3 separate regions of the Homo sapiens genome follow, and all the other regions are linked to region 1. The links come from fine-mapping of genetic effects on gene expression. A gene starts in region 1. Each other region holds a variant in brackets. All regions are shown on one strand. Distances are between the middles of the regions.

Region 1 (10,734 bases):
TAGCCAGGAGTGGTTGCGTGCGCCTGTAATCCCAGCTACTTGGGAGGCTGAGGCAGGAGAATCACTTGAACCTGGGAGGTGGAGGTTGCAGTGAGCCAAGATCGTGCCATTGCACTCCAGCCTGGGTGACAGGGCGAGACTTGGTCTCAAAAAAAAAGTAATAAAATAAAATAAAATAAACCCTCCCATAGCACCCAGCTCCTTTGGGGTCAAGACCCAAGTCTTACCCAGGGCCCACAGGGCCCTGTACTACCTGCCCCTTCGTGGTTGGCACAATGGAGGGTAGGAGCATTTGAGCATCTTCTGCAAGCACCGCCCCTCTGCACCCCTCCAGCAAGGGACCTACCTTGAACTTGATCTCCTGATCCCGGAGAATCAGGCTGAAGTGGGTGCCAGGGTCACGTGAGCTTCCCCAGGGAATCTCATCTGTGAGTTTCTCAAATGCTCCCAAGTTGAGCTTCTCCACGTGCTGGGGGCATAGAAGCAGGGGATCTGGGCACCAGTTCCTTGGCCTCCAGGCCCCCTGGATGATGTAGCAGCCACCTTGACCACACCATCTACATTGTCTGCTTGGTCTCTGGGCTCAAGGGAAGGCCTGCTCTGGAGCCTCCATTCCCATCCTTACCTGGAAGTCCCGATTGCTATTGTAGAAATAAATGGTGAGACCCTGCAGGCCTGCCCAGAACTTCTTGTAATCCTAGGGACCAGAAGTGCAGAAAGAAGAGGTGAGCTGGCCAAGCTGAGTGCCTTTCATGTACTCAATCCTGTCTCGGGGCCTTTGCACTGGTTGTGCTCTCTGCCCCACGCTGCCCCCAGATCTTTATTACCTCCTGCCTTGAGTTTCTGATCAAATGTACCTTCTCAGGGAGATCCTCCCCACCCATGGCCCAGCTTCTGGGTGTCTGTTTTCGTCTGAGAAAGGACCAGACGGAACCTCGATGTGATGAGGGATTCAGAGCAACCCCCGCCAATCTATAGAGATGGGTGCTCTAGGGGTAAGTTAACTAACTGGTTTAATGGTATCCCATTCATCTTTCATCATCCAGCTACCCACTAGCCATCTATCTATCATCCATCTGTCCATCCGCCCACCCACCCATTCATCCATCCACCTACCATTGACCCATCCATTCACCCATTCATCCATCCATCCATCTGCCCACCATCCATCCACCAATCCGTCCACCCACCCACCCATCCACACATCCATCCATCCAGTTATTCATCCACCCACCCACCCATTCATCCATCCACCTACCATTTACCCATCCATTCATCCATTCATCTATCCATCCACCCACTCATCCATCCGTCCATCACCCCCATCCATCCATCTATCCATCATGGAGCCATTCATCATCCATCCATCCAGTCATTCATCAATACCTACATCACCCACCATCCATCCAGTCATCCATCCACCCACACATCCATCTGTCCACCCATCCATCCATCCCTCCATCATCCATCCACTCATCCATCCACCCACTCATCCATCCATCCACTCATCTATCAATGCATCCCTCCATCCATCCACCTACTCATCCATCCATCCACCCATCCATCCATCCCTCCATAATCCATCCATCCATCCACTCACCGTCCATCATCCATCCACCCACTCATCCATCCACCCACTCATCCATCCACCCACTCATCAATCCATCCACCCATCCATCCACCTATCCATCCATCCCTCCATCATCCACCCACCATCTATCATCCATCCACCCACTCATCCATCCACCCACTCATCCATCCATCCATCCATACATCCATCCACTCATCTATCAATGCATCCCTCCATCATCCATCCACCTACTCATCCATCCATCCCTCATCCATCCATCATCCATCCATCCACTCATCCCTCCATCATCCATCCACCTACTCATCCATCCATCATCCATCCATGCATTCATCCATTCACCATCCACCCACCCACGCATCTTCCCGTTCATCCATCCATACATCCCTCCATCGTGCATCCACCTATTCATCCATCTATCATTCATCCATGCACTTGTTCATCCATCCATCATCCACCCACCCACCCGTCTGCCCACTCATCCATCCATCCACTCCCCCATCCATCCATCCACCCACTTGTATATGCACTCATCCATCCACCCACACATCCTCTCAGCCACCATCAAGCCCGCATGTATTCACCAAGCCTCCACTCATCCCCCCATCTACCCATCCACCTGTCCATCCGTAGACACAAGCACAGATACACACATGCATTTACCTAACATTTACTGAAGGCTTTTTATGTGCCAGCCCTGCTCCAGGCACTGGGACTAGAGCAATACAGGATTAAACACTGTATTGCTTCATTATGTACCCACGATGTGCTGTTGGGCAAGTTATTTGAGCTGTCTTTGTCTGTTTCCCCAGCTGTAAAATGGTGATAATAATGGTGCCAACTCTGGAGGATCTCATGAGAATTAGGTGACTTTCCACATGGGAAGCACCAGGGCCTGCGTTGAGTCAAGTCCTCAACACGTGAACTGTGACTACAGCCCTAACTCCCTATTTCAGAAGACAGAAAACTAAGGCTCAAAGATTAAGTCACTTGCATAAGGCCTGGGAGTAAGGAAAGTGTGGAGCCGGGATTAGAACCTGGGTCTTCTTAATTCGGGCCCATGATCTTTTTTGTTTTGTTTTGTTTTGTTTTTAAGAGACAGAGTCTTGCTCTGTCGCCCAGGCTGGAGTGCAGTGGTGCGATCTCGGCTCACTGCAACCTCCACCTCCCAGTTCGAGCCATTCTCCTGCCTCAGCTTCTCAAGTAGCTGGGATTACAAGTGCGCACCACCACATCCAGCTAATTTTTGTATTTTTTAGTAGAGGTGGGGTTTCACTATATGTTGGCCAGGGTGTTCTCGAACTCCTGACCTCAAGTGATCCGCCGGCCTCGCCCTCCCAAAGTGTTGGGATTACAGGCGTGAGCCACTGCACACTGCCTTTTTTTTTTTTTTTTTTTTTTGAGACAGAGTCTCACTCTGTCACCTAGGCTGAAATGCGGTGGCACCATCTCAGCTCACTGCAACCCCCCCGCCCCAGTTCAAGCAATTCTCCTGCCTCAGCCTCCCGAGTAGCTGGGATTACAGGTGCACACCACCACGCCCAGCTATTTTTATTTTTAGTAGAGATGGGGTTTCATCATGTGGCCAGGCTGGTCTTGAACTCCTGACCTCAAGTGATCCTCCCACCTCGGCCTCCCAAAGTGTTGGGTTACAGGCGTGAGCCACCACGCCCGGCCCCCATTATCTTTCTTTTCTTTTTTTTTTCTTTTTGTTTTTGAGAGCAGTCTCGCTCTTGTCCCCCAGGTTTGAGTGCAATGGCTTGATCTTGACTCACTGCAAACTTCGCCTCTCAGGCTCAAATGATTCTCCTGCCTCTGCCTCCCAAGTAGCTGGGATTAAGGCGCCTGGCACCATACCCAGCTAATTTTTGTATTTTTTAGTAGAGACGAGGTTTCACCATATTGGCCAGGTTGGTCTTGAACTCCTGACCTCAGGTGATCCGCCTGCCTCGGCCTCCCAAAGTGCTGGGATTACAGGCGTGAGCCACAAGCCCGGCCTCCCCCATTATCTTTCTTAACTGCAGTGATCTACTGGCTCTAAAGGGTTTGTTGGTTGGGGAGGATTTGGATGTATGGAGGTAGAAGGAAAGTCTACTCCACTACAGGTAAGGGAACCTCAGGGGCAGAGGCGGGGACATGGGCAGGGAGGAGCTGGGGGTGTTTGTTTTGATCTGTATTAGAAAATGAGGCAGTCATGGTGGCTCACACCTCTAATCCCAGCAGTTTGGGAGGCTGAGACAGGAGGATCACTTAAGGCCAGGAGTTTGAGACCAGCCTGGGCAACATAGCAAGACCCCATCTTTTTTTTTTTTTTGAGACGGAGTCTTGCTCTGTTGCCCAGGCTGGAGTGCAGTGGCACGATCTTGGCTCACTGCAACCTCTGCCTCCCAGGTTCAAGTGATTCTCCTGCCTCAGCCTCCAGAGTAGCTGGGATCACAGGCACGCACCACCACGCCCGGCTAATCTTTGTATTTTTAGTAGAGACGGGGTTTCACCATATTGGCCAGGCTGGTCTCAAACTCCTGACTTCAGGTGATCCACCTGCCTCAGCCTCCCTAAGTGCTGGGATTACAGGTGTGACCCACTGCGCCTGGCCAGCAAGACCCCATCTTCAAAAAAAAAAAAAAAAGGCTGGGTGCGGTGGCTCATGCCTGTAATCCCAGCATTTAGAGAGGCCGAGACAGGTGGATCACCTGAGGTCAAGAGTTCAAGACCAGCCGGGCCAACAAAATGAAACACTGTCTTTACTAAAAATACAAAAATTAGGTGTGGTGGTGCGTACCTGTAATCCCAGCTACTCGGGAGGCTGAGGCACGAGAATCGCTTAATCGTTTGAACCTGGGAGGTGGAGGTTGCAGTGAGCCGAGATGGTGCCACTGCACTGCAGCCTGGGTGACAGAGTGAGACTCAGTCTCAAAAATAAATAAATAAAATAAAAGCCAGAAGAGGCAGTGCATGCCTGTGGTCCCAGCTACTCAGGAGGCTGGGGCGGGAGGTTCACTTGAGCCCAGGAGTTTGAGGCTACAGTGAGCCATGATCGTGCCCCTGCACTCTAGCCTGGGTGACAGAGCAACTCTGTCTCTAACAAAAAGAAAGAAAGAAAATGAATATGCGGCATTGGGAAGGAGAGATAGGGCCTCACGGGGAACGGAGGGGCTGGGACTTTATTCTGAGGGAGACATAAGCACACACACACACACACATGCACGCACTGTCCATGGCAACTATCTGTCCTGTGGAATGTGGCCCCCGCTAGCTCTTACTGTCCTCACATGTCACCTGTCCTGGCCTTCGCCCCAGCAGCTGAGGTTCACGGAGTTTTTCCTGGGCTGGGAGCGGGAGGAAGCTCGGGAGTCAGAGGACTCCCCATTTCCTGGAGGAAGTCCCTGATCTTGTTTGTATTCAAGAGAGTGAACGAGAGACAAAAGCAAAGATTGAGACAAAGAGAGAGGGAGACTGAGACAGACATCGGGAGAGACAGACGGGGCCAGGGAGAGAGAAAGAGAAAAAGAAACCAAATTCAAAGACACACGGAGACAGAGATAGACGCACAGAGAGGCAGATGGCCAGAACCCACCCCAGTCCCCCAGCACGTGTCCTGCCCCATCCAGCACCCACCCCGCCCCCCCTTGGCGAGTGGGGAGACAGGGACTCAGAGAGGTGCCGCAGCTCCCCACGGTGGCCCAGCAGGGCCAGCCCCCGCCTCCCCACCTTACCCGGTCACAGGGCCCCTTCTTCTCTAGAAAGCTCTCATAGTAGTGTGAAGGCAGGACACCCTTAGGCTTGGGGACACGGGGTGGCCTCAGGGCAGAGGCCATGACGGAGCCAGGGTCTTCCGCCTGGCCTCTCCTTCCAGTGGGTGCCCCAGCTGGGCCGGGAAGCTGAGAAACAGGTTTCAGGGGAGTTTCCTGTGTCAGCCCGTCAACTCCCTCCCCTGCCAGGGCTGGGCAGAGGCTGATCCCAGCAGGTCCAGTGATCCTAGGGAAATCCCCGCCTCTCCGGTGTGGAACTGAGAACAGAGAGAATGTATAAGTCTACTTGAATGGGAGAATAATCTTCGCTATATCTGCAAAGACAGAGACATGGTCTGTCTCTTTATTTATTTATTTATCTATTTTTCCTATTTTGAGACAGAGTTTCACTCTGTTGCCCAGGCTGGAGTAAAGTGGTATGATCTTGGCTCACTGCGACCTCTGCCTCCCGGGTTCAAGAGACTGCGCTGCCTCCCGGGTTCAGAGACTGAGTCCAAGCTCAGTCTCCTGACTAGCGTGGATTGCAGGTGACCGCCACCACGCCTGGCTAATTTTTGTATTTGTAGTAGAGACGAGGTTTCCCCATGTTGGCCCAGGCTGGTCTCGAACTCCTGACCCCAAGTTTTCTGCCCGCCTCAGCCTCCCAAAGTGCTGAGATTACAGGCATGAGCCACCACACCTGGCCCTTTCTCTTACTTTGATGGACCCTAATGATTACATTGGGCCCACCTGGATAATCCACGCTACTCTCCCTATTTTAAAGTCAGCTGACTAGCAACTTTAATTTCATCTGCAATTTTTCTTTTTTAGACGGTGTCTCATTCTGTTGTCGATGCTGGAGTGCAGTGGCACGATCATAGTTCACTGCAGCCCTGACCTCCCAATCTCAAGCGGTCCTCCTGCCTCAGCCACCCGAAGAGCTGGGACTATAGGTGGGCACCACCACACCCAGCTAATTTATTTTCCTTTTTTAAGGATGAGTTCTCACTATGTTGCCTAGGCTGGAGTACAGTGGGGCGATCATGACTCACTGTAGCCTCGACCTTACAGGCTCAAGTGATCCTCCAGCCTCAGCCTCCAGAGTAGGTGGTACTACAGTTGCATGCCACCACACCTGGCTAATTTTTTTTTTTCTTTTTTTTGAGACAGACTCTCGCTCTGTAGCCCAGGCTGGAGTGCAGTGGCGTGATCTCGGCTCACTGCAAGCTCCGCCTCCCAGGTTCATGCCATTCGCCTGGCTCAGCCTCCCAAGTAGCTGGGATTACAGGTGCCTGCCACCACGCCCAGCTAATTTTTACACTTACTAGAGACAGGTTCTTGCTATGTTGCCCAGGCTGGTCTTTTTTTTTTTTTTTTTTTGAGACAGAGTCTTACTCTGTCACCCAGGCTGGAGTGCAGTGGAGCGATCTCGGCTTACTGCAACCTCTGCCTCCCAGGTTCAAGCAATTCTCCTGCCTCAGCCTCCCGAGTAGCTGGGATTATAGGCACGTGCCACCATGCCCAGCTAATTTGTTTGTATTTTTATTTTAGTAGAGATGGAGTTTCACTGTGTTAGCCAGGATGGTCTTAATCTCCTGACCTTGTGATCCACCTGCCTCGACCTCCCAAAGTGCTGGGATTACAGGCATAAGCCACCGTGCCCGGCCCTCAGGCTAGTCTTGAACTCCTGGGTGCAAGTGATCCTCCAGTCTAGGCCTCCCAAAGTGCTGGGGTTACAGGTGTGTGCCACTGTGCCTGGCGTCTATCTTTAATCTTCAAATCCCTTTGCCACGTATCCTAACGTATTCACAGATTCTGGGAATTAGGGCGTGGATATCTTTAAGAGACCATTATTCTGCCTACCACAGCCTGTTTAATATGGTGGACAATTGATTAATTTTGAATACTGAATCAGTCTTGGGTCCCTGGAGTAAACCCCACTTGTCATGGTGTATAATTCACTTTATATATTGTTAAATTCTACTTTGTAATATTTTGTTAAGGATTTTTGCACGTCTTCATGAGGGATATGGGGTGTAGCTTGCTTTCTTTGTACCGTCTTTATCTGGTTTTGGTATCAGGGTCATAGTTCCATAAAATGAACAGGGAAGTGTCCCCTTCAATTTTCTGGAAGAGATGATGTGAAATTGGTGTTAATTCTTCTTTGAACCTTTGGCAGAATTCCTTAGTGAAACCATCTGGGTCTGGAGATTGCTTTTTTGGGAGTTTTTAAATTACAAATTCAATTTCCTTAGTAGTTACCAGGGCTAGACTTTGTATACATAGCAGAACAGGTGTTCTAGAAATCACAGAAAGGCCGTGGGACTGTGGCAATGTGTTCATCCACTGAACTGTCTGATAAAGTTGATAGTATCAGCTATACTAAGTAAGGTCAGAGAGTTGATTTTTGTTTCGTTTTTTTGTTTGTTTGTTTTTTCAGACAGGGTTTTGCTCCTTTTGCCCAGGCTGGAGTGCAGTGGCATGATTTCGGCTCACTGCAACCTCCGCCTCCCGGGTTCAAGCGATTTTCCTGCCTCAGCCTCTGGAGTAGCTGGGATTACAGGTGCCTGCCACCACCCCCGGCTAATTTTTTTGTTTTTATTAGAGATGGGGTTTCACCATGTTGGTCAGGCTGGTCTTCAGCTTCTGACCTCAAGTGATCCCAAAGTGCTGGGATTACAGGCGTGAGCCACTGTGCCCAGCCAGGGTGGTTAGTTTTTATTGTATTTGTCTAAGGCAATGTGGAGCGACAGAAGGATTTACAGCATGAGAGGAGGGCAGGGTGCGGTGGCTCACGCCTGTAATCCAAACACTTTGGGAGCCCAAGTGGGAAGATTGCTTAAGGCCAGGACTTGGAGACCAGCATGGGCAACATAGTGAGATCCCCTTCTTTTACAAGAAAATTAAAAATTAGCCAGGCATGCTGGTCACGCCTGTTGTCTCAGCTACTCTGGAGGCTGAGGCAAGAGGATCATTTGAGTCCAGGAGGCCAAGGCTGCAGTGAGCCATGATTACACCAATGCACTCCAGCCTGGGAGATAGAGCAAGGCCCTGTCTCGAAAAGAAAAGAAAATAGGCTGGGCGCAGTGGCTCACACCTGTAATCCCAGCACTTTGGGAGGCTGAGGCAGGTGGATCACCTGAGGTTGGGAGTTCGAGACCAGCCTGGCAAACATGGTGAAACCCCTTCTCTACTAAAAATACAAAAATTAGCTGGGTGTGGTGATGTGCATCTGCAGTCCCAGCTAATTGGGAGGCTGAGGCAGGAGAATCGCTTGAACCTGGTAGGCAGAGGTTGTAGCGAGCCAAGATCTTGCCACTACACTCCGGCCTGGGTGACAGAGCGAGACTCCGTCTCAAAAAAAAAAAAAAAAAAAAAAAAAAAAAAAGAAAAAAGAAAAGAAAAGAAAACAAAATAATAATATGGGAGGGAGGTGGTAATAGGTGCATTTTAGAAAGAGCCCTCTGGGGCAATGGTGGAAGACCGACAGGGTGGGGCATGAGTTTGGAGGCCTGAGACTCACTGCGATGGCCAGGATTTGGGTGCAAGAGGCTGGAGGTGTGGCTCAGGGTTTTGGAAGGCAGGGGACGGAAAAAAAGCCAAAGAGAAAGTGCGTAAGGAGTTGGGGAAATAAACTGAGGCCGGTTTGGGCTATGCTGAGTCTGCAGGCCTTGGGGATGCCCGTTGTTGGCTGGACAGTCAGGGTGGGGCCCCTAAAGGGTGCCTGGGCTGGACAACAATAGTTCACATGTACCCAGCTCTTGCTCTATGTCAAGTCTTCTTCCTGAGAACATTCCCGAGCACCCTGGAGAGCCTCCCCCGCACCCCTACTGTCCAGTTCCCACTTCCCGACTGCGGTCTGGGCAAAGCCACCCGCACTTGAGCCCATCCCACGGCGTCCCGGAGCTTTAGGAAGTCCCCATCCCGGACTTTCAACCCTGCCAGGGACTGAGGGAAATCCCAGAGCCTGGGCTCCGGGACGAAGGTCCCAGGACAGGGTCGGGGATGTAGTTGCAGAAACAGGGTAGGGGACAAAGGCCGGGGCTGCACTGATCAGGCGCGCAACGAGCCCGGCCCTGCCTCCTGCTCCGCCCAAGGGTATGGAGGGCCGGACTCGGCTGGCCTTATACCCGGAGCTGATTGGCTGGTGAGTCCAGTCCCTGCCTCTGATGGTTTGCGCTCATAACTAAGGGTTTCTACTGATTGGTTTACATGGACGTCTGCCCATTGGTCAAATCCGAGTTGGTGTAATCAGATAGTTGACACGGATTGGTTGGTGCGGGAATCCAGTAGCTTGCTATCGATTGGTTGAGGGTGAAATAAATGGGACTCTTATCATTGGCTGGCGGGCTCCGCAACGGTCCAATCATGGAATCAGTCGAGGGCCGCCCGGGAGGGTGGGAGTTAATTCTTTAGCGACTGAGGCCGGCTTGGGCTCTTTGGCTCCACCTGTGTCTGCGCGAGGCTGTTCCCTATTGGAGTCCGCATTGTTCCCCTGGACCTGAGTTTCTCCCCTGGTCCTAAAGGCCGAGGCCTCTGAGTTCCTCAAGTGCGGTGACCGCAGGTCTCACCTTCTCCTCTCCTTGCAGCAGGCTGAGCCACTCGCGCACCCGCCCCAGGCTTCCACCTTGCAACCTCTATCCCTGGACAGCGAGGCCTCAGTTTCCCCATTCGCACCAATGAGCTCCCGGTCAACACCCCGTCACGCCTCAGTTTCCCGAATGTTCCCAGAGGGCTGAGTTCCCGATCTCTCTCCCGCGTGGGCATCCCCGAGGCCTCAGTTTCTCCGCCCACCCCAGCGCGCCGAGCCCTTCCCCCGACCCCGGCGACGGCCAATGGTTGGGGCGCCCCTCCCCTCCCCGGGGCGGGGCCGCGTGACGTGCCGGGAAGCCGGAGTCTAGAGCTCCGGGCGCGGGGAGGCGCGGCCATGGCAGGTACGGCGGGCCCAGCGGGGCGGAGGCGCGGGGCGCGGGGCTGCAGGGGCGCGGGGCTGCAGAGCCGTGGGGCGAGCGGCCTCCCTGCAGCCTCTCGCTGTCCGCAGCTCCGGAGCCGCTGTCCCCGGCGGGCGGTGCGGGCGAGGAGGCGCCGGAGGAGGACGAGGACGAAGCGGAGGCCGAGGACCCTGAGCGGCCGAATGCGGGAGCGGGCGGTGGACGCAGTGGCGGCGGCGGCAGTAGCGTCAGCGGAGGAGGCGGCGGCGGCGGGGCCGGGGCGGGGGGCTGCGGCGGGCCCGGGGGCGCGCTCACCAGGCGCGCGGTCACACTGCGGGTGCTCCTCAAAGACGCGCTGCTGGAGCCTGGCGCCGGGGTGCTGTCCATCTACTACCTGGTGAGCACCCCGCCTCCCTCGTCCCATCGCGGCTCGGGCAGGAAGGGGAAACTGAGGCCTGGAGTTCCCTTGCTGCAGGACAAGCTT
Region 2 (10,734 bases), 82 kb before region 1:
CTCACATCCCTACATGCTGCCCCGCAGGTGTAAGACGTGCGGAGAATACATCTACAAGGGGAAGAAATTCAATGCTCGGAAGGAGACGGTGCAGAACGAGGTCTACCTGGGCCTGCCCATCTTCCGCTTTTACATCAAGTGCACGCGCTGCCTGGCAGAGATCACCTTCAAGGTAGGTGAGACGGCCGGCCAGGCCGGTCCCTCTCCCCCAGCACACCTCAGATCAGGGCGGGCCCTGGGGTTCCTTAACTCCAATCCTCTCCATCCAGGGAATCTCATTTCAGTTTATCCCCAAGAAACAGACAACAGTTTGGGGGAGATGTTCATGGCAGCATTCTAAATAAAGGCAAAAAGACAGAAGCAACCTAGATAGATAATAATAAGGGATGAGAAGAACAAATTAGCATGCAGGCTGGGCATGGCTCACACCTGTACTCCCAGCACTTTGGGCGGCCAAGGCGGGCAGATCACCTGAGGTCAGAAGTTCAAGACCACCCTAGCCAACATGGCGAAATGCCATGTCTACTAAAAATACAAAAATTACTGGGCATGGTGGCGGACTATAATCCCAGTTACTCGAGAGGCTAAGGCAGGAGAATCACTTGAAGCTGGGAGGCAGAGGTTGCAGTGAGCGAAGATTGCACCGCTATACTCCAGTCTGGGTGACAGAGCAAGACTCCAACTAAAAAAAAAAAAAAAAAAAGCCAGGCACAGTGGCTCATGCCTGTAATTCCAGCAGGTTGGGAGGCCAAGGCAGGAAAGAGAGCCCCTGAGGTCAGGAGTTTGAGACCAGCCTGGCCAACATGGTGAAACCCCGTCTCTACTAAAAATACAAAAGTGAGCCAGGCGTGGTGGCTCATGCCTGTAATCTCAGGTACTTGGGAGACCAAAGCAGGAGAATCGCTTGAACCCGAGAGGGAGAGGTTGCAGTGAGCCAACATTGCGCCATTGCACTCCAGCCTGAGCAACGAAATGAAACTCTGTCTCAAAAAGAAAAAAAAAAGTAGCGTGCAATGGAATATTACACAGCCAATAAAAATTGCAATTTGACTTTTATTTGTTACCTTGAGAATTTAAGGAAAGACTGAAGATAACTTAAAATTTTCTCTTCCTATGCTTAAGTACTCTTTGAATACTTTTTTGCCATAAGCTTTTTTTCTTTGATTAAAAAAACATTTTGGGCTGGGCGCAGTGGCTCACAGCTATAATCAGCACTTTGGGAGGCCAAGGCAAGTGGATCAGTTGAGGTCAGGAGTTCGAGACCAGCCTGGACAACATGATGAAACCCCAACTCTACTAAAAAAAAATACAAAAATAGGCCGGGCGCAGTGGCTCACGCCTCTAATCCCAGTACTTTGGGAGGCTGAGGCAGGCGGATCATGAGGTCAGGAGATCGAGACCATCCTGGCTAACACAGTGAAACCCCGTCTCTACTAAAAAAAAAGCAGAAAAAAATTAGCCAGGCGTGGTGGCGGGTGCCTGTAGTCCCAGCTACTCGGGAGGCTGAGACAAGAGAATGGCGTGAACCCAGGAGGCGGAGCTTGCAGTGAGCTGAGATCGCGCCACTGCACTCCAGCCTGGGCGACAGAGCGAGACTCCGTCTCAAAAATAAATAAATAAATTAATAATAATAATAATATTTTGGCTGGGTGCAGTGGCTCACGCCTGTAATCCCAACACTTTGAGAGGTCAAGGGAGAAGGATCGCTTAAATCCAGGAATTCAAGACCAGCTTGGGCAACATAGTGAGATCCCGTCAGTACAAAAAAATATAAAAATTAGCTGGGCATGATGGCATGCGCCTATAGTCCTAGCTACTTGGGAGGCTGAGGCAGGAGAATCAATTGAGTCTGGGAGGCCAAGGCTGCAGTGAGCCATGATTTCACTGCTATACTCCAGCCTGAGTGACAGAGTGAGACCCTGTCTGCAAAAAAACAAACAAAAACTTTTTTTGAAATACCTGAAGATTTACAGAAAAGTTCCAAAGATAGTACAGATAATTCTCACCTACCCCCTCACCAACTTCCCCGAATATTAGCATCTTATATAACCAGGGTACATCTGTCACAGTAAGATACTAAGGGTGGGGCCAGGCATGGTGGCTTACTCCCAGCGCTTTGAGAAGGCAAGGCAGGAGGATTGCTGGGGACCAGAAGTTCAAGACTAGCCTGGGCAACATAGTGAGACCCTGTCCGTGTCTACACACACACACACACACACACACACACACACACACACAAATTTTAATTAAAAAAAGAAACTAAAGGTGGAATGTTACCATTAACATTGTAGGCTGTGGCTGGGTGCAGTGGCTCATGCCTGTAATCCCGGCACTTTGGAGGCCAAAGCAGGAGGATCGGTTGAGTCCAAGAGTTAGAGACCAGCCTGGGCAACATGGCGAAACCCTGTCTCTACCAAAAAGAAATTTAAAAATTAGCCAGGTGTGATGGTGCATACCTGTAGTCCCAGCTACTCGGCAGGCTAAGGTGAGAGGATTGCTTGAACCCGGGAGGCTGAGGTTGCAGTGAGCCATGATCCTGCCGCTGCACTCCGGCCTGGGCAACAGCACGAGACCCTGTCCCCAAAAAAATAAAAAACATAGTGTTACTATTAGCATTTAGACCAAAGGTAGATTTCAGTTTTTCTGCTAATGTCACTTTTCTGTTCCAGTGTGTAATTTAAGATACCAGGGTGTATTTAGCCTCTCTATTCAATAAACAAAAACAGGGGCATGCTGTATACATATTTGTACATGTGATTTATAATCAAAGAAAAGGTGTTAATAAATACAAAGGGCAGAAATCACAACATGTGCAGAACCTTGGAGATTTTTTTTTTTTTTTGAGACAGGGTCTCACTTTGTAGCCAAGGCTGGAGTACAGTGGTGTGATCTCAGCCTCCCAGGTTCATGTGATTCTCATGCCTCAGCCTCCAGAGTAGCTGGGATTACAGGCATGCACCACCTTGCCCTGCCTAATTTTTTGTATTTTTAGTAGAGACAGGGTTTCTCCATGTTGGCCAGGCTGGTCTTGAATACCTGACCTCCAGTGATCCACCTGCCTCATTGGAGAGTTTGTTTGCAGTCATGTTAAGGGTAGGGAGTGGAGGATGCAGGGAGGCAGTGGGCAGATGAGAAGAGTCTTAAAGTCCATGCCAGGGAGTTGGGCATTTTTGCCCATGGAGATGGGAGGAGCACTAGGAAGAAATCTCACCAGTCAAAGCAATAAGACAAGAAAAAGAGAAGGTAGTAGAACCAGTAAAAATCAGAGAGAAGGGGCCCTGATCTGCTGGTGGTACTTTAGAAGATTCTAGTGCCTGGGGATGTAGGAGCTGATGTCTGTCTATCCTCCCTGCAGACAGACCCTGAAAACACAGACTACACCATGGAGCATGGAGCCACGCGGAATTTCCAGGCTGAGAAGCTCCTGGAGGAGGAGGAGAAGAGGGTGCAGAAGGAGCGGGAGGACGAGGAGCTGAACAACCCCATGAAGGTGAGTCGGGGGCCATGTAGGTGTTCATGGGCGCTGTGTGTGTGGGTGTGTGTGTGTGCCAATGGTTGTGCCCTTCCTGCCTCAGGTCCCCAAGGAAGGAAGATGGGGTGGGGGGCGTGGTTGGTAAAACTTTAAGATGTCCCCAGGAGGCCAGGCATAGTGGCTCATGCCTGTAATCTCAGCACTTTGGGAGGCTGAGGCGGGAGGATCACTTGAGGTCAGGAGTCCTAGACCAGCCTGGCCAATGTGGCGAAACCCTGTTCCTACTAAAAATTTTAAAACTTAACACTGGGCGCAGTGGCTCACACCTGTAATCCCAGCACTTTTGGAGGCCGAAGTGGGTGGGTCACGAGGTCAGGAGTTTGAGACCAGCCTGACCAACATGGTGAAACCCCGTCTCTACTAAAAATACAAAAATTAGCCAGGCATGGTGGCACGCTTCTGGAATTACAGCTACTCAGGAGGCTGAGGCAGGAGAATCGCTTGAACCGGGGAGGCAGATGTTGCAGGAAGCCGAGATGGCGCCACTGCACTCCAGCCTGGGTGACAGAGTGAGATTCTGTCTCCAAAAAAAAAAAAAAAAAATTAGTCAAGCATGGTGGCGCATGCCTGTAATCTCAGCTACTTGGGAGGCTGAGGCAGGAGAATTGCATGAACCCGGGAGGCAGAGGTTGCAGTGAGCCGAGATCAAACCACTGCACTCCAGCCTGGGCAGCAAAGCAAGACTCTGTCTCAAAAAAAATAAATAAATAAAAGAAATTATGTTCACTTCCAATAGGACAATTTTGTATTTTCTCAGAAATATTAAAAGGAGCCATGCATGGTGGCTTGAACCTGTAGTCCCAGCTACTTTAGGGGTTGAGACAGGAGGATCACTTGAGTCTAGGAGTCAAAGACCAGCCTGGGCAACATAGTGAGACTCTGTCTCTATAAAACATTAAAAAATTAGCCAGGTGCTTGCCAGGCGTGGTGGCTCACACCTGTAATCGCAGCACTTTGGGAGGCCAAGGCAGGTGGATCACAAGGTCAGGAGTTCAAGACCAGCCTGGCCAAGAGGGTGAAACCCCGTCTCTACTAAAAATACAAAAAATTAGCCGGGCATGGTGGCAGACACCTGTAATCCCAGCTACTCGGGAGGCTGAGGCAGAGAATTGCTTGAACTCAGGAGGCAGAGGCTGCAGTGAGCTGAGATCATGCCACTGCACTCCAGCCTGGGTGACAGAGCAAGATTCTGTGTCAAAAAAAAAAAAAAAAAAAAAATCAGCCAAGTGCTTTGGGAGGCTGAGGCAGGCGGATCACCTGAGGTCAGGAGTTCAAGACCAGCTTGGCCAACACGGCGAAACCCTGTCTCTACTAAAAATACAAAAATTAACCAGGCGTGGTGGCACGCGCCTATAATCCAAGCTACTCAGGAGGCTGAGGCAGGAGAATTGCTTGAACCCAGGAGGCGGAGGTTGCAGTGAGCCAAGATCGCGCCATTGCACTTCAGCCTGGGCAACAAGAGTAAAACTCTGTCTCAACAACAACAACAAAAATTAGGCAGGTGTACTGGTGTGCACCTGTGGTCCCACCTACTAGGGAGGCTGAGGCGGGAGGATCACTTGAGCCCAGGAAGTTGAGGCTGCAGTTAGCTATGATCACATCACTGCACTCCAGCCTGGAAGACAGCAAGACTGTCGCAAAAAAAAAAAAATATATATATATATATATATATATATGTACACACACATATACATATATATACATACACATATATATATAAAACAGATTTTTAAATGACTGTGTTCCCTGCTGTCCCCTCCTGCTTCCATATTTCCCATCCATTCTTATCTATTCCTGGACCCACCCACCCCTGCCAAATGTGAGTTTTCTGAGCAAGCCACATCAGACCAGATACAACATTTTCCATGGCCATGCAGAGCAACAGGGAGGGAAATGAGCCTTGGCAAGGGTTTGGTGTGTGCCTGGGCCTGTCGCACTGCTGTCTGTGTGTGAATTTAGTTACCTCCACACTGACAGCAAGGGGCTCTTACCCTGGTGTTAGTCAGCTATTGCTACATAACAGGTTATCCCAAAACTTAGTGACTGAAAACAACAAACATTTATTATCCCACAGTTTTTGAGAGTCAGGCATCCAGAAGCAGCTGAGCTGGATGGTTGTGGCTTGGGGGCTCCCATGAGGTTGCAGTCAAGGTGTTGGCCAGGGCAGTATCATCTGAAGGCTGGACTGGGGCTGGAGGAGCCACTCGCAAACTGGCTCCCTCTACTGGCTGTTGGCTGTCAGCCTCAGTTCCTCGCTGTGTGGGGAGCTGCTTGAGCAACCTCACAACATGGCAGCTGCGTACCCCAGAGCATGTGACCCAAGAGTGAGAGCAAGGAGGAAGGCCTGTGCTTTTACATCCTAGTCTCAGAAGTTACGTGCCATTATTTCTGTCATATTCCATTAGAGCAAGTAGCTTGTCCAGCCCCTGCTCAAGGGGAGGGGAGTCACCTCCACCCCTTAAATGGAGGAGCATCAGAGAGTTTGTGGACATACTTTTAAACTGTCAGAATTGCCATTTTTCCAAAGGGTAAATACAACAAGGTCACAGCACTGGGAAGCAGCCAGGCAGGATTCACTCCCAACCTGCCTGGCTCCAAAGCCACTTCTCAGGGACCCGTGGCCACCAGACTCGCCTCCCTCAGCCTCAGTTTCCGTTTCTGTAAAATGGGGGTTGTGAGGATTAAATGAGATGGCATATGGAAACCTCTTAGCCCAGGGCCCGGTGTACAGTAGGTGCTCAGGTTGTCTTTTACAATTTTTCCTTAATATTATTATTTTTGAGATAGAGTCTCGCTCTGTCACCCAAGCTGGAATGCATTGGCACGATCTGAGCTCAGTCAACCTCTGCCTCCTGGGTTCAAGTGATTCTCCTGCCTCAGCCTCCCAAGTAGCTGGGATTACAGGTGTGTGCCACCACGCCTGGATAATTTTTGTATTTTTATTATTTATTTATTTTTTTGAGATGGAGTCTCACTCTGTCACCCAGGTTGGAGTCCAGTGGTGCAATCTTGGTTCACTGCAACCTCTGCCTCCCGGGTTCAAGCAATTCTCCTGCCTCAGCCTCCCAAGTAGCTGGGATTACAGGCACATGCCACTACGCCCAGC[T/G]ACTTTTTGTATTTTTAGTAGAGATGGGGTTTCGTCATGTTGGCCAGGCTGGTCTTGAACTCCTGACCTCAAGTGATCTGTCTGCCTCGGCCTCCCAAAGTGCTGGGATTACAGGCGTGACCCATAACACCCAGCCTGTATTTTTAGTAGAGACAGGGTTTCACCATGTTGGCCAGGCTGGTCTCGAACTCCTGATCTCAGGTGATCCGCCCGCTCCGGCCTCCCAAAATGCTGGGATTACAGACGTGAGCCACTGTGCCTGGCCAAATTTTTCCTTATTATTCTTACTGAAAGATGGCACCAGGCCAGAAATCCAGGCCACCTGGGTCCAGAGCCAGCCTCTTTCCACCCCACCCTGCCCCAGGGCTCAGATCCCGGCTCCACCACTGCTCAGCCCCATGTGGTCACTTTCCCTCCCCAGACCTGAGTGTTCTCACCTGTGAAATGGACACAGCGCTGGGCATGGGCAGGGGGTTCCCTGAGCAGGATGGAAACGTGGGGGTAGGGGTTCCTCCCGTGGCCCGCAGTGGCCCCCGAGGCCAGACAGGGTTTGCCCCGTGGTGCGATCCCCATGCACTCAGCCCCGCCGCCCCGCGCCCGCCAGGTGCTGGAGAACCGGACCAAGGACTCCAAGCTGGAGATGGAGGTGCTGGAGAACCTCCAGGAGCTGAAAGACCTGAACCAGCGGCAGGCGCACGTGGACTTCGAGGCTATGCTGAGGCAGCACCGCCTGTCGGAGGAGGAGCGGCGGAGGCAGCAGCAGGAGGAGGACGAGCAGGAGACCGCGTGAGTCAGGGCCGGCCCAACCCAGCCCCACCTCGCAGCCTCTGCCCCGGCAGGCGCTGCCTCTGCCCCAGACCCTTTCCCCGCTCTCTGGAGTGTCGCCTTTGCAAGGACCCCTTTCCCACCGCCCATCTCACTTTCTCCCTTGTGGCGTCTCTCGAGGGGGTCCCAGGCCACTGCCGGGCACGGTGACTTAGCACGTGGTCGCCCGCATGGCTGCGGTTTGTCACAGCGAGAGGACACAGCAGATTCAGCAAAGGGGAAAGGCATGTGTGGTGTGTCGGGGGCCAGGCCTTCCAGATCCTCTCCTGGTGGAGCTTCGCAGGACGCGCCTCATCCCCTAGCACCAGCCTGGAGGACTCGAGAAAGGCGCCATCACTAGGGAAGCTCCTAGAGACCCAGCGTGGGGTTCCTATGGGGCCTGGTCCCACAGCCCCCGCTGCCTCACCCATGCCGGGATTCCAGACTCCAGAGGAAAGCAGGGGTCACGCATAAACCATGGTGTTTGCAGGAACAGCTGAAGCCCCAGAGCCCGTCCCATCCATGAGGGTGGGAGGCCCCCAGCACAGGCTCCCGGACACCCACCAAGGGACGCCCTCACCAGCCGCCTTCTGAGGACACAGCCTCAGGCCTCCTGGGTGAACACTTTTCTTTTTTTTTTTTTTTTTTTTTTTTTTTTTGAGACGGAGTCTCCCTCTGCTGCCCAGGCTGGAGGGCAGTGGCGCCATCTCGCTCACTGCAAGCTCCGCCTCCCGGGTTCATGCCATTCTGCCTCAGCCTCCCGAGTAGCTGGGATTAGAGGCATCCGCCACCAAGCCCGGCTAATTTTTTGTAATTTTTAGTAGAGATGGGGTTTCACCGTGTTAGCCAGGATGGTCTCGATCTCCTGACCTCGTGATCCGCCCGCCTCGGCCTCCCAAAGTGCTGGGATTGCAGGCGTGAGCCACCGCGCCCGGACGACGCTTTTCTTTTTCTTTGAGACGGGGTTTTGCTCTGCCGCCCAGGCTGGAGTGCAGTAGTGCAGTCATAGCTCACTGTAGCCTCCATCTCCCGGGCTCAAGCGTTCCTCCTGCCTCAGCCTTCTGGGTAGCTGGGACCACAGGGACACATCACCATGCCCAGCTAATTGTTTTTATTTCTGTAGAGACAGGACCTCGCTATGTTGGACAGGCTGGTTTTGAACTCCTGGCCTCAAGCGATCCTCCCACCTTAGTCTCCTGAAGTGCTGGATGACACGTGTGAGCCCCTGTGGTTGGCTGGTGAATGCCTTTGACGCCGACCACCTCTGAGCCCGCGTGCTGATCCCCTCCTTTCCTGGTGCCTCATCTCCCCTCCCTCCTTTAGAATCTGAGCTGTAAGGACAGGGACGTGGTGGCCTCTCCTGTGTCCCCAGGGCTTCCAGCAGGTAGGTTCTGGTAGGTTCCACGTCAGTGCCTGATGGGTGTGCAGAGCAGCGATACCGTGCAGAACAGTGTTGGGAGCCTGCGTTCATCCTGCACCTTCCGGGTGCCGGGCGTGGCTGTAACCTCACTACCCACACAGCCCTGGGGGTCAGTGTGATCTTCATCATGGAGGGGACTGAGGTCCAGGGAGGTCCAGGCATGAGCCCCACCAAGGTTACCCTCCAGGCTCCATCCAGACAGGCTGGTTCCGGCATCCAGGCACTTAACCACACCACTGCCCTCGGTGGACACGGAAAAGTTAATGTAAAAAAGTAGAAGGGGCCGGGCGCAGGGTCTCCTGCCTGCCATCCTGCACTGTGGGAGGCTGAGGCGGGCGGATCACCTGAGGTCAGCAGTTCGAGACCAGCCTGGCCAACATGGCGAAACCCCATCTGTACTAAAAATACAAAAACAAATTAGCTGGGCGTGGTGGCAGATGCCTGTAATTCCAGCTGCTCCAGAGGCTGAGACAGGAGAATTGCCTGAACCCGGGAGGCAGAGGTTATAGTGAGCCGAGATGGTGCCACTGAACTCCAGCCTGGGCGACAGAGCAAGATTCCTCCTAAAAAAAATGAAAATTAAAAAGTAGACTAGGTGCGGTCGGTGGCTCACGCCCGTAATCCCAGCACTTTGGGAGGCTGAAGTGGGCGTATCACCTGAGGTCAGGAGTTCGAGACCAGCCTGGCCAAGATGGTGAAACCCCGTCTCTACTAAAACTACAGAAATTAGCTGGACATGGTGGTATGTGCCTGTAGTCCTAGCTAACATTTTTAATTTTTTTAGAGACGGGGTCTCGCTATGTTGCCCAGGCTGGTCTCTAACCCCTGGCTCAAGCGATCCTCCCGTCTCAGCGTCCCAAAGAGCTGGGATGACAGGCATGAGCCACTGCATCTGGCCCCTTTAATCTGTTTTATGTTTAAATAGAGGAAGTGGTAACCACTGGGTTAAGGAAGTCCCAATGGGTGCTCTGCCCTCACGGAGCTCACTGTGTGGGGAGGGAGAGGGACAAGGAGACCAATACCCAGGACAACATCCATCTGGGTGAGAGAGAAGCCAGGATGCGTGAGCTTGAATTATGAGGATGAGCTTCTCAGAGGAAGAGCGTCTTGCATTGGGTATTGAAGGTCGAGTAGGAGTTCACCAAGCGAGTGCTTGGCAAAGGGGTCATCCCAGGTAAGGGGATGTAGGCCCCTGATTTTTAAAATCCTTTTTGCAGAGATGCGGTCTTGCTGTGTTGCCCAGGCTGGTCTCATGCTCCTGGCCTTAAGCATTTCTCCTGCCTTGGCCTCTAAAGGCACAGGGATTACAGACATCAGCCACCATGTCTGGCCCCAAGACATTTTTCTAAAAGACATTTTCTTTGAAGCTATATCCCCTGATTAGAGTTCTCACACTGTGGTTCTCACATAAACCACTCCCAGAATTAGAGACCGGCCTGGCCAAGATGGCGAAACCCCGCCTCTACTAAAAATACAAAAATTAGCTGGACACGGTGGTGCGTGCCTGTAGTCCTAGCTGCTCGGTAGGCTGAGGCTGGAGAATCGCTTGAACCCAGGAGGCGGAGGTTGCAGTGAGCCAAGATCACGCCACTGCACTCCAGCCTGGACAACAAAGACTCCATCTCAAAAAAGAAAAAAAAAATACAAAAATTAGCCGGGTGTGGTGGCAGGCACCTGTAATCCCAGGTACTTGGGAAGCTGAGGCAGGAGAATCGCTTCAACCTGGGAGGTGGGGGTTGCAGTGAGCCAAGATTGCGCCACTGCACTCCAGCCTGGGCAACAGAGCGAGACTCTGTCTCAAAAATAAAATGAAATAAAATTTAATAAGGCATAGGAACACGCCTGTGGACCCAGCTACTCAGGAAGCTGAGT
Region 3 (10,734 bases), 110 kb before region 1:
TCTCTGTCTCTCTTTCTGTGTCTGTCATCTCCCCGTATCTCTATTTCTGTCTTCCTGTCTTCTTTCTGTCTCTCTTTTGTCTCTCTTTCTCCATCTCTGTCATTGCCCCATCAGTCTTTTTGTTGTTGTTGTTGTTCTTTTTGAGATGGAGTCTCACTCTGTCACCCAGGCTGGAGTGCAGTGGTGTAATCTTGGTTCACTGCAACCTCTGCCTCCCAGGTTTAAGTGATTCTCCTTCCTCAGCCTCCAGAGTAGCTGGGATTACAGGTGCCTGCCACCACGCCCAGCTAATTTTTGTATTTTTAGTAGAGACAGGGTTTCACCATTTTGGTCAGGCTGGTCTCGAACTCCCAACCTCAGGTGATCCATCTGCCTTGGCCTCCCAAGGTGCTGGGATTACAGCCGTGAGCCACCGTGCCCCACCATCTCTCTATCTCTGTCTATCCTACTCTCTCATCTCTGTCTCTCTGTCTCTGTCTCTCATCTTCCCATCTGTGTCTCTCTTTCTCTGTCTTCCTCCCTTATCTCTGTCTCTGTGTCTCTCTCATTTCCCTATCTCTGTCTTCCTCTCTTATCTCTGTCCCTCTGTCTCTCTTCCTCTGTCTGTCTGCTCTCTGTGTTTCTCTTTCTGTTTCCATCATCTCCCTGTCTCTCTCTGTCTCTGTGTCCTCCTCCTCTCATCTCTGTCTCTGTCTCTCTCATTCCCCTGTCTCTCTCTGTCTCTATCATCTCCCTATCTATCTCTGTGTCCTCCTCCTCTCATCTCTGTCTCTCTCTGTGTTTCTGTCTCTGTCATCCCCCTTTCTCTGTCTCTGTCATCTCCCTGTCTCTCTATCTCTGTGTCCTCCTCCTCTCGTCTCTGTCTCTCTGCCTCTCTCATCTGTATCTCTCTCTGTCTCTGTCATCTCCCTGTCTCTGTCTCTCTCTATCTCTGTGTCCTCCTCTCATTTGTCTCTCTGCCTCTCTCATCTGTATCTCTGTCACTTTCTCTGTCATCTCCCTGTCTCTCTATCCCTCTATCTCTGTGTCCTCCTCTCATCTGTCTCTCTGCCTCTCTCATCTGTAGCTCTCTCTGTCTCTGTCATCTCCCTGTCTCTCTATCCCTCTATCTCTGTGTCCTCCTCTCATCTGTCTCTCTGACTCTCTCATCTTTGTCTCTGTCTCTGTCTCTGTCATCTCCCTGTCTATCTCCGTGTCCTCCTCCTCTCATCTCTGCCTTTCTCATCTCTGTGTCTCTCTCTGTGTTTCTGTCTCTGTCATGCCCCTTTCTCTGTCTGTCATCTCCCTGTCTCTATCTATCTCTGTGTCCTCCTCCTCTCATCTCTGTCTCTCTCATCTGTATCTCTCTCTGTCTCTGTCGTCTCCCTGTCTCTCTATCTCTTTGTCCTCTTCCTCTTGTCTTTCTCTCTGCCTCTCTCATCTGTGTCTCTCTCTGTCTCTGTCTCTGTCATCTCCCTGTCTCTGTCTCTCTCTCTCTGTGTCCTCCTCCTCTCGTCTCTTTCTCTCTGCCTCTTTCATCTGTGTCTCTGTGTCTCTCTGTCATCTCCCTGTCTATCTCTGTGTCCTCCTCCTCTCGTCTCTGTCTCTCTGCCTCTTTCATCTGTGTCTCTCTGTCTCTGTCTCTGTCATCTCCCTGTCTCTGTATCCCTCTATCTCTGTGTCCTCCTCTTCTTGTCTCTGTCTCTCTGCCTCTCTCATCTGTGTCTCTCTCTGTGTCTCTGTCTCTGTCATCTCCCTGTCTCTCTGTGTCTTCCTTCTGTCTTCTCTGTCTCTCTGCCTCTCTCCCCCATCTCTGCCTCTGTCTCCCTCCATGTCCCTGAGCCCCTGCCTGCCTGCCTGGGGTTTCCCCCGCTTCAGGGCAGCGGAAGGAAGGCCAGCAGGACATGCTGTGCTGGGAAAAGCCAGCAGGTCTCCACTTCTCCCTTTCACAGCCTCCTCCCCCGCCCCCACCCTCGGGGCCTTCCGAGCAGGGGTGGCCTGTGCTCCCCAGGGGGCTGGGGCTCCTCCACACCCTAATTCATCTCCCTAGCGGCCCCACGAGCCCCACCAGTGAGTCAGACCTGAAGGAAGTCGGGGAGGGGGCGGGCCTTGACCCTGGGCTGGGCTTTCCCCTGGGCAGGTCCCAAGTCCTCACCTCCCCTCTCAAGTCTCCCACGACGTTCCCACCCACTCCTGAGAGCAGAGCTGGCCGCAGCCATGACCCCGCAGCTTCTCCTGGCCCTTGTCCTCTGGGCCAGCTGCCCGCCCTGCAGTGGAAGGAAAGGTATGTGGGGCCCCTGGGGGACTGGGGGGCCCAGGCAGACGGACATGACACGAGGACTGGCCTCGGATCATGTCTGGGGTGGGAAATCACATCCTCCCGTGCCCAATGGTGGGATGGGGTTACCCTCCCATTGTACAGATGGAGGAACTGAGGCACAGAGAGGCAGAGTGCCACATTGGGGGTGGAAGGATGTCACCTTGTGGGTGATAGGGACTGGCAGTCACAGCTCAGAGGTATCCATAGAGCTACACAGACATAGCTACACAGACATGCGAATTTGAGTCACACTCATTCCTTTGGTTTCTTTTTGGTTTTGTTTTTTGAGACAGAGTCTCACTCTGTCGCCCAGGCTGGAGTACAGTGGCACCATCTCAGCTCACTGAAACCTCCATCTCCTGGGTTCAAGCGAGATTCTCCTCCCTCAGCCTCCCGAGTAGTTGGGATTACAGGTGCCCGCCACCATGCCCGGCTACTTTTTATATTTTTAGTAGAGATAGGGTTTTACCATGTTGGCCAGGGTGGTCTTGAACTCCTGACCTCAGGTGATCCACCCACCTCGGGCTCCCAAAGTGCTGGGATGACAGATGTGAGCCACCGCGCCCGGCCGACATTCATTCATTTTGCACTAGAGAACATCTCCATGTCCTTGAAGACAAAATGGTTACAGCAGGGCATGGTGGCTCATGCCTGTAATTCCAGCACTTTGGGAGGCCAGGGCGTGAGGATCGTGAGGCCAGGAATTCGAGACCAGCCTGGGCAACATAGTGAAACCGGACCCCACCAATCTGTACAAAAAATTAAAAAATTAGCTAGATGTGGTGGCACGTGCCTGTAGTCCCAGCTACTTGGGAGGCTGAGGTGGGAGGATAATTTGAGCCCAGGAATTGGAGGCTGCAGTGAGCTATGATTGTGCCACTGCATTCCAGCCTAGGTGACAGAGTGGGATACCTTGTCTCAAAATAATAATAATAATAATAATTTATAGGCTGGGTTTGGTGGCTCACGCCTGTAATTCCAGCACTTTGGGAGGCCAAGGCAGGTGGATCACCTGAGGTCAGGAGTTTGAGACCAGCCTGGCCAACATGGTGAAACTCCCTCTCTACTAAAAATACAAAAATTAGCCAAGCGTGGCAGTACATGCCTGTAATCCCAGCTACTCGGGAGGCTAAGAATCGCTTGAACCCGGGAGGCGGGGGTGGCAGTGAGCCGAGATCTCGCCACTGCACTCCAGCCTAGGCGACAGAGGGAGACTCCCTCTTTAAAAAAAAAAAACAATTACAAAAGAGAGAACACGGTAAAATCTCTCTCTCTTACCCGAGTTCCTCTCTGTAGATGCTTAAACCTCAGCTTCCCTATCTGGAAAATGGGCTAGTAGTCCTCACCTAGATGGATTGCAGTGGGGATAAAAGATGACAGATGACTTTTGTCCATGTACCTATTTATTCCGAAAGCCTTTATTAGGCACCTACCATGTACCTGGTGCTGGCTGGCAACGTGGCAGGAGCCCAGCGCACGGGAGGGCTATGACAATCTGGGGGTAAACCAGAAGCTCACTCTTTCTGTCTTCCTCCAGGGCCCCCAGCAGCTCTGACACTGCCCCGGGTGCAATGCCGAGCCTCTCGGTACCCGATCGCCGTGGATTGCTCCTGGACCCTGCCGCCTGCTCCAAACTCCACCAGCCCCGTGTCCTTCATTGCCACGTACAGGTCGGAGAGCCTGGAAGGGGGCCTCAGGGACACTGGACTTCCTGGAGAGCCCAGAACTCTGGCCCTGAGAGCCCTGGGGTCAGGAAAACTGGAGACCCCGACATCCTGAACCCCAGGCCTATGGAATTCTAGGGCGGCCCCGTCCAATAGAAATATACTTTCTGGGCCAGGCACAGTGGTGCATGCCTGTAATCCCAGCGCTTTGGGAGGCCGAGGTGGGCAGATTGCTTGAGGTCAGGAGTTTGAGACCAGCTTGGGCAACGTAGTGAGACACTGTCTCTACGAAAAATTTTAAAAATTGGTCAGGTGCAGTGGCTCATGCCTGTAATCCCAGCTACTCCGGAGGCTGAGGCAGGAGAATAGCTTGAACCCAGGAGGCGGAGGTTGCAGTGAGCCAAGATGGCACCATTGCACTCCAGCCTGGGCAACAGAGCAAGACTCCATCTCAAAAAAAAAAAAAAAAAACTACTTCCTGGGTTGGGCACAGTGGCACATGCCTGTAATCCCAGTACTTTGGGAGGCTGATGTGGGAGGATCACTTGAGGTCAGGAGTTTGAGTCCAGCTTGGGCAAAATAGTGAGACCCTGTCTCTAAAAACAATTTTTAAAATTAGCTGGGCATGGCCAGGCGCGGTGGCTCACGCCTGTAATCCCAGCACTTTGGGAGGCCGAGGTGGGCGGATCACAAGGTCAGGAGATGGAGACCACCCTGGCGAACACGGTGAAACCCTGTCTTTACTAAAAATGCAAAAATTTGCCAGGTGTGATGGCACGCGCCTGTAGTCCCAGCTACTCGGGAGGCTGAGGCAGGAGAATTGCTTGACCCAGGAGGTGGACGTTGCAGTGAGCCAATATTGCATCGCTGCACTGCATCCTGGTGATAGAGTGAGACCCCGTCTCAAAAAAAAAAAAAAAAAAAAAAAGAAAAGAAAAGAAAAGAAAAGAAAAGAAAAAATTTCGAAAAAGAAAAAAAAATTAGCTGGGCATGTTGGTACTTGCCTGTAGTCCCAGCTACTCTGGAGGCTGAGGTGGGAGGATCACTTGAGCCCAGGAGTTTGAGACCAGCCTGGGCAACATAGCAATATCCTGTCTGTACTTAAAATCAAAAAAATTAGCTGGATGTAATGGCACACATCTGTAGTCCCAGGTACTTGGGAGGCCGAGGTGGGAGGATCACTTGAGCCCAGAAGTTCAAGACCAGCCTGGGCAACATACTGAGACCCCCCCCCATCTGTAGAAAAAAAATTTAAAATTAGCCAAGAGTGGTGATGCGTGCCTGTAGTCCCAACCGCTCTGGAGGCTGAGACAGGGAAGATCCCTTGAGCCAGGAGTTCAAGGCTATAATGAGCTAGGATCATGCCACTGCACTCCAGCCTGGGCGCCAGAGGGAGACCCTGTCATGAATGAATGAATGAATGAAGGGATGAATTAATGAATGAATGAAGGAATGAATTAATGAATGAATGAAGGAATGAATTAATGAATGAATGAACGGATGAATGAATGAATGAATGGATGGATGAATGAATGAATGCTGACATCCCAGAAACCTTTAGAATCCCGGACCCTAGCATCTAGCTTGGGTTGTAATCCCCGACCTGAACCATCAGGGGCACCGTGATGTTGGGGCCCATGCCCTGCCCCCGGGGGGTGGCACGGCCACCACCAGGACCCCACCCCGGGATCCCCATCCGCTGCCCCCTCCTGTTCCTGCCTCTCCTTGGGGTCCCGGGTCAGGCCCGGCAGTAGGAGGTGCTGAGGCCACAGGCACTCCCTGAGGCGCTCAGCGAGCCCCACCCTGTGCAGGCTCGGCATGGCTGCCCGGGGCCACAGCTGGCCCTGCCTGCAGCAGACGCCAACGTCCACCAGCTGCACCATCACGGATGTCCAGCTGTTCTCCATGGCTCCCTACGTGCTCAATGTCACCGCCGTCCACCCCTGGGGCTCCAGCAGCAGCTTCGTGCCTTTCATAACAGAGCACATCAGTGAGTGGGGGCGGCAGTGGGGGCGGGGGCGGGGCTGCCGTCTCCTTCCAGCTCCCCCCACCCCACCTCCCACCTGTCCTCCAGTCCTGCGGCTGCACCTTCACACTTAAGCAAAAATCTGACCCCTTCTTCCCCCTCCTCTACCAGTACGTGGAGCACCCCCATCATTGACAGCCCAGTCCCCTCCATCCTGAGCCCTGGCCTCCACAGTCTGTCCTTCCCACAGCAGCCACCAGAGGGCGCCTGAGAGCACCTGAGTCAGGGC[A/C]CGTCCCTCTGCCTACAGCCCTCCATGGCTCCCACCTGCCTTGGGGTCAAAGCCCAAGTCCTTCCTACTGCCCACCAAACCCTGGACAACCTGCCCTGTCTCCTCCATGCCCTCCCCTCCTCCCTGTCTCCCCCTTGCTCACTCTGCTGTGGCCACATGTGATTCCTTGATGTTCAACATGCCAGGAATAGTTCTGCCCCAGGGCCTTTGCATGGGCGGTGCCCTCTACCTGGAACACCTTCCCCCAAATGTCCCCATGACTTATTCCCTCACCTCCTTCGGGTCTCTGTGCATACATCACCTCCTCAGTAAGACCTCTCCTGAGTAGATTATTAAAAATTGCAAGCTCTGGCTAGGCTCAGTGGCTCACACTTGTAATCCCAGCACTTTGGGAGGCTGAGGCAGGCCGATCACCTGAGGTCAGGAGTTTGAGACCAGTCCTGGCCAACATGGTGAAACCCTGCCTCTACTAAAAATACAAGAATTAGCTGGGCATAGTGGCAGGTGCCTGTAATCCCAGCTACTCAGGGGGCTGAGGCACGAGAATCACTTGAACCCAGGAGGTGGAGGTTGCCGTGAGCTGAGATTGTGCCACTGCATTCCAGCCTGGGCGAGAGAGCGAGACTCTATCTCAAAAAACAAAACAAAACAAAACAAAAATTGCGGCCACTGCCATTCCTGCACTCCCCAGCTTTCTTCCCTATTCTGTGTGACCTATGGATTTGTTTATTTCCTGTCTTCCCCCTGATGGATTGTGAGTTCCATGAGGACAGGGGTAGGTCAGTTAAGGTCACTGTTTTGTCCCCTCTGTGGCAGCCCCAGGCACACAGTTTCTCAATAAATATTTGTTGGTTGAGCCAGGCATGGTGGCTCACAACTACTCGGGAGGCTGAGGCAGGAGAATCGCCTGAACCTGGGAGGCAGAGGTTGTAGTGAGCTGAGATCACGCCGCTGTACTCCAGCCTGGGTGACAGAGTGAGACTCCGTTTCAAAACAAACAAAATATATACATAATATGTTGGTTGAATGAATGAGTGAATGAATGAATGACTGGACTTACTGTCCCCTGACCCTGCTTCCTGCTTGTCCGTCAGTCAAGCCCGACCCTCCAGAAGGCGTGCGCCTAAGCCCCCTCGCTGAGCGCCAGCTACAGGTGCAGTGGGAGCCTCCCGGGTCCTGGCCCTTCCCAGAGATCTTCTCACTGAAGTACTGGATCCGTTACAAGCGTCAGGGAGCTGCGCGCTTCCACCGGGTGAGGAGGATGAGGGGGAGGCTGGAAAGGGTGGTGCCTGGCAGAGGGAATGGTTTTTACCAAGACTAGCAGGTGTGCTGGGCTCTTGCACATAGCTTGCGATTCCGGGTGCATTGAATAAGAGCAGTCCAGCAATCTGATTCCTAGGCCTCTACCGAAAAGGATGGAAAGCAGGGACTTGCACAAGCTGTCGCACACCCGTTTTTGTTGTTATTGTTTTGAGACAGAGTCTCGCTCTGTCGCCCAGGCAGTGACACAATCTCGGCTCACTGCAAACTCCGCCTCCCAGGTTCAAGCGATGCTCCTGCCTCAGCCTCTGGAGTAGCTGGGATTACGGGCACGTGCCACTATGCCCGGCTAATTTTTGTATTTTTAGTAGAGATGGGGTTTCATCATGTTGGCCAGGCTGGTCTCGAACTTCTGATCTCAGGTGATCTGCCTGCCTCGGACTCCCAAAGTGCTGGGATTACAGGCGTGAGCCACCGAATTGTTCACTTTATTGATTGATTGATTGAAACAAGGTCTAGCTCTGTCACCCAGGCTGGAGTGCAGTGGCGCGATCTTGGCTCGCTGAAACCTCCGCCTCCCAGGTTCAAGTGATTCTCCTGCCTCAGCCTCCTGAATAGCTGGGACTACAGGCGCCCACCACGCCCGGCTAATTTCTGTATTTTCAGTAGAGATGGGATTTTGCCATGTTGCCCAGGCTGGTCTCAAACTACGGAGCTTAGGTGATCCACCTGCCTGGGCCTCCCAAAGTGTTGGGACTACAGGTGTGAGGACTTCATCTGGCCAGAATTAGCCATTTTAAAGTGAACAATTCTGGCTGGGCAGGGTGGCTCACACCTGTAATCCCAGCACTTTGAGAGGCCAAGTTGGGAGGATTGCTTGAGTCCAGGAGTTGGAGACCAGCCTGGGTAACATAGTGAGACTCCCATCTCTACAAAAAATTTAAACATTAGTTGGGTGTGGTGACACACACCTGTACCCCCAGTTACAAGAGGCTGAGGTGGGAGGATCACTTGGGCCTGGAAGATTGAGGCTGCAGTGAGCCGTGTTGGCACCACTGCCTTCCAGCCTGGGTAACAGAGAGAGACTCTGTCTCCCAACTTAAATAAATTAAATAAAATAAAAAGCACGGTTAGGCTAGGTGCAGTGGCTCATGCCTGAAATCCCAGCACTTTAGGAGGCCAAGGCAGGCAGATCACTTGAGGTCAGGTGAAACCCCATCTCTATTAAAAATACAAAAATTGGCCTGGCGCGGTGGCTCATGCCTGTAATCCCAGCACTTTGGGAGGCTGAGGCAGGCAGATCACGAGGTCAGGAATTCGAGAACAGCCTGACCAACATGGTGAAATCACAGCTCTACTAAAAATACAAAAATTAGCCGGGTGTGGTGGCGGGCGCCTGTAATCCCAGCTACTCAGGAGGCTGAGGCAGGAGAATGGCTTGAACCCGGGAGGTGGAGGTTGCAGTGAGCTGAGATCATGCCACTGCACTCCAGCCTGGGTGACAGAGTGAGACTCCGTCTCAAAAACAAACAAACAAAAATTAGCCAGGCATGGTGGCGGGCGCCTGTAATCCCAGCTATCTGGGAGGCTGACGTGAGAGGATGGTTTGAGCCTGGAGGCAGAGGTTGCAGTAAGCCAAGATTGCCCCACTGCACTCCAGCCTGGGCAACAGAGTAAGACTGTCTCAAAAAAAAAAAAAAAAAAAAAAAAAGCATGGTTAATATAGTGGGACCAGGGGTAAAGGGAGGTATGGGGTCCTATCCCAGAGGTCCTGGTTTAGTCCCAGGGAGGAGAAAGAAGAGGATTATAGGGATCAGGGATGTCCTGATGAACAAAGACCCTCCTGGGTGAGACATCCACAGGGGCTAGTGTGGTCCAGGAAGGATTCGTAAGAGAGGTGGCTCTGGGGGCCACACAGACAGAGGCCGGGATTGGGAGGAGCCCATGATGCTATTTGGGGTGGGGCCGCACAGCTGGGGCCAGAGTCCTGGACTGGAGCCTGCAGGGGGCAGGGAGGACTGCACGCTCCGTTGTGTGGTTCTGTGCACAGTGGCCCCTCTCCATCTTCTGGTTCTAGTGACCTGACGCTCTCTCTTCTCTCAGGTGGGGCCCATTGAAGCCACGTCCTTCATCCTCAGGGCTGTGCGGCCCCGAGCCAGGTACTACGTCCAAGTGGCGGCTCAGGACCTCACAGACTACGGGGAACTGAGTGACTGGAGTCTCCCCGCCACTGCCACAATGAGCCTGGGCAAGTAGCAAGGGCTTCCCGCTGCCTCCAGACAGCACCTGGGTCCTCGCCACCCTAAGCCCCGGGACACCTGTTGGAGGGCGGATGGGATCTGCCTAGCCTGGGCTGGAGTCCTTGCTTTGCTGCTGCTGAGCTGCCGGGCAACCTCAGATGACCGACTTTTCCCTTTGAGCCTCAGTTTCTCTAGCTGAGAAATGGAGATGTACTACTCTCTCCTTTACCTTTACCTTTACCACAGTGCAGGGCTGACTGAACTGTCACTGTGAGATATTTTTTATTGTTTAATTAGAAAAGAATTGTTGTTGGGCTGGGCGCAGTGGATCGCACCTGTAATCCCAGTCACTGGGAAGCCGACGTGGGAGGGTAGCTTGAGGCCAGGAGCTCGAAACCAGTCCGGGCCACACAGCAAGACCCCATCTCTAAAAAATTAATATAAATATAAAATAAATTAGCCAGGTGTGATGTTGCGCGCCCACAGTCCCAACTACTTGGGAGGCTGAGGTGGGAGGATCACTTGAGTCCAGGAGGTTAAGGCTGCAGTGAGCTGTCGTCACACCACTGCCTTCATGCCTGGGCAACAGAGCAAGACCCTGGTTTTTTTGTTTGTTTGTTTGTTTGTTTTAATCATAGTTGAGGCCGGGTGCGGTGGCTCGCGCCTGTAATCCCGACGCCGAGGCGGGCAGATCACGAGGTCAGGAGTTCGAGACCAGCCTGACCAACATGGTGAAACCCGGTCTCTACTAAAAATACAGAAATTAGCTGGGCATGGTGGCCTGAGCCCGTAACCCCAGCTACTCAGGAGGCTAAGGCAGGAGAATCGCTTGAACCTGGGAGGCGGAGGTTGCAGTGAGCTGAGATTGCACCACTGCACTCCAGCCTGGGCAACAGAGCAAGACTCCGTCTCAAAACAAAAACAAAAAAAATAATAGTTGAAATGAAGACTCCAGCTGGGTATGGTGGCTCACGCCTGTAATCTCAGCACTTTGGGAGGCCAAGGCAGGTGGATCA

Evidence for each region. PIP is the estimated chance that this variant, and not a neighbour inherited with it, causes the effect. A credible set is the group of variants that fine-mapping cannot tell apart.
Region 2: its variant is the best candidate, but not a certain one, in a credible set for the expression of STAP2 in skeletal muscle (GTEx, PIP 0.58).
Region 3: its variant is the best candidate, but not a certain one, in a credible set for the expression of STAP2 in tibial artery (GTEx, PIP 0.65).

What each region holds. Positions count from the first base shown.
Region 1 is chr19:4,333,348-4,344,081 of GRCh38, forward strand. STAP2 (signal transducing adaptor family member 2) reads right to left here and starts at 5,480. Exons shown (of 13, transcript NM_001013841.2): 1 at 5,305-5,480; 2 at 626-697; 3 at 347-469. The coding sequence starts at 5,406. MPND (MPN domain containing) reads left to right here and starts at 10,215. Exons shown (of 13, transcript NM_001300862.2): 1 at 10,215-10,253; 2 at 10,361-10,647. The coding sequence starts at 10,247. RefSeq lists enhancers at 9,127-9,246, 9,267-9,998 and a silencer at 10,067-10,356.
Region 2 is chr19:4,251,000-4,261,733 of GRCh38, forward strand. YJU2 (YJU2 splicing factor homolog) reads left to right here. Exons shown (of 8, transcript NM_018074.6): 3 at 28-172; 4 at 3,356-3,490; 5 at 7,243-7,424. Among named protein-coding and RNA genes, the nearest start is that of YJU2, 9.3 kb to the left of the region's middle. The variant T/G (reference allele first, on the strand shown) is at 6,639.
Region 3 is chr19:4,227,355-4,238,088 of GRCh38, forward strand. It overlaps EBI3 (Epstein-Barr virus induced 3), which reads left to right and starts at 2,169. Exons shown (of 5, transcript NM_005755.3): 1 at 2,169-2,263; 2 at 3,837-3,969; 3 at 5,775-5,953; 4 at 7,313-7,470; 5 at 9,582-10,174. The coding sequence starts at 2,197. The coding sequence ends at 9,734. RefSeq lists enhancers at 2,389-2,478, 3,442-3,943. The variant A/C (reference allele first, on the strand shown) is at 6,219.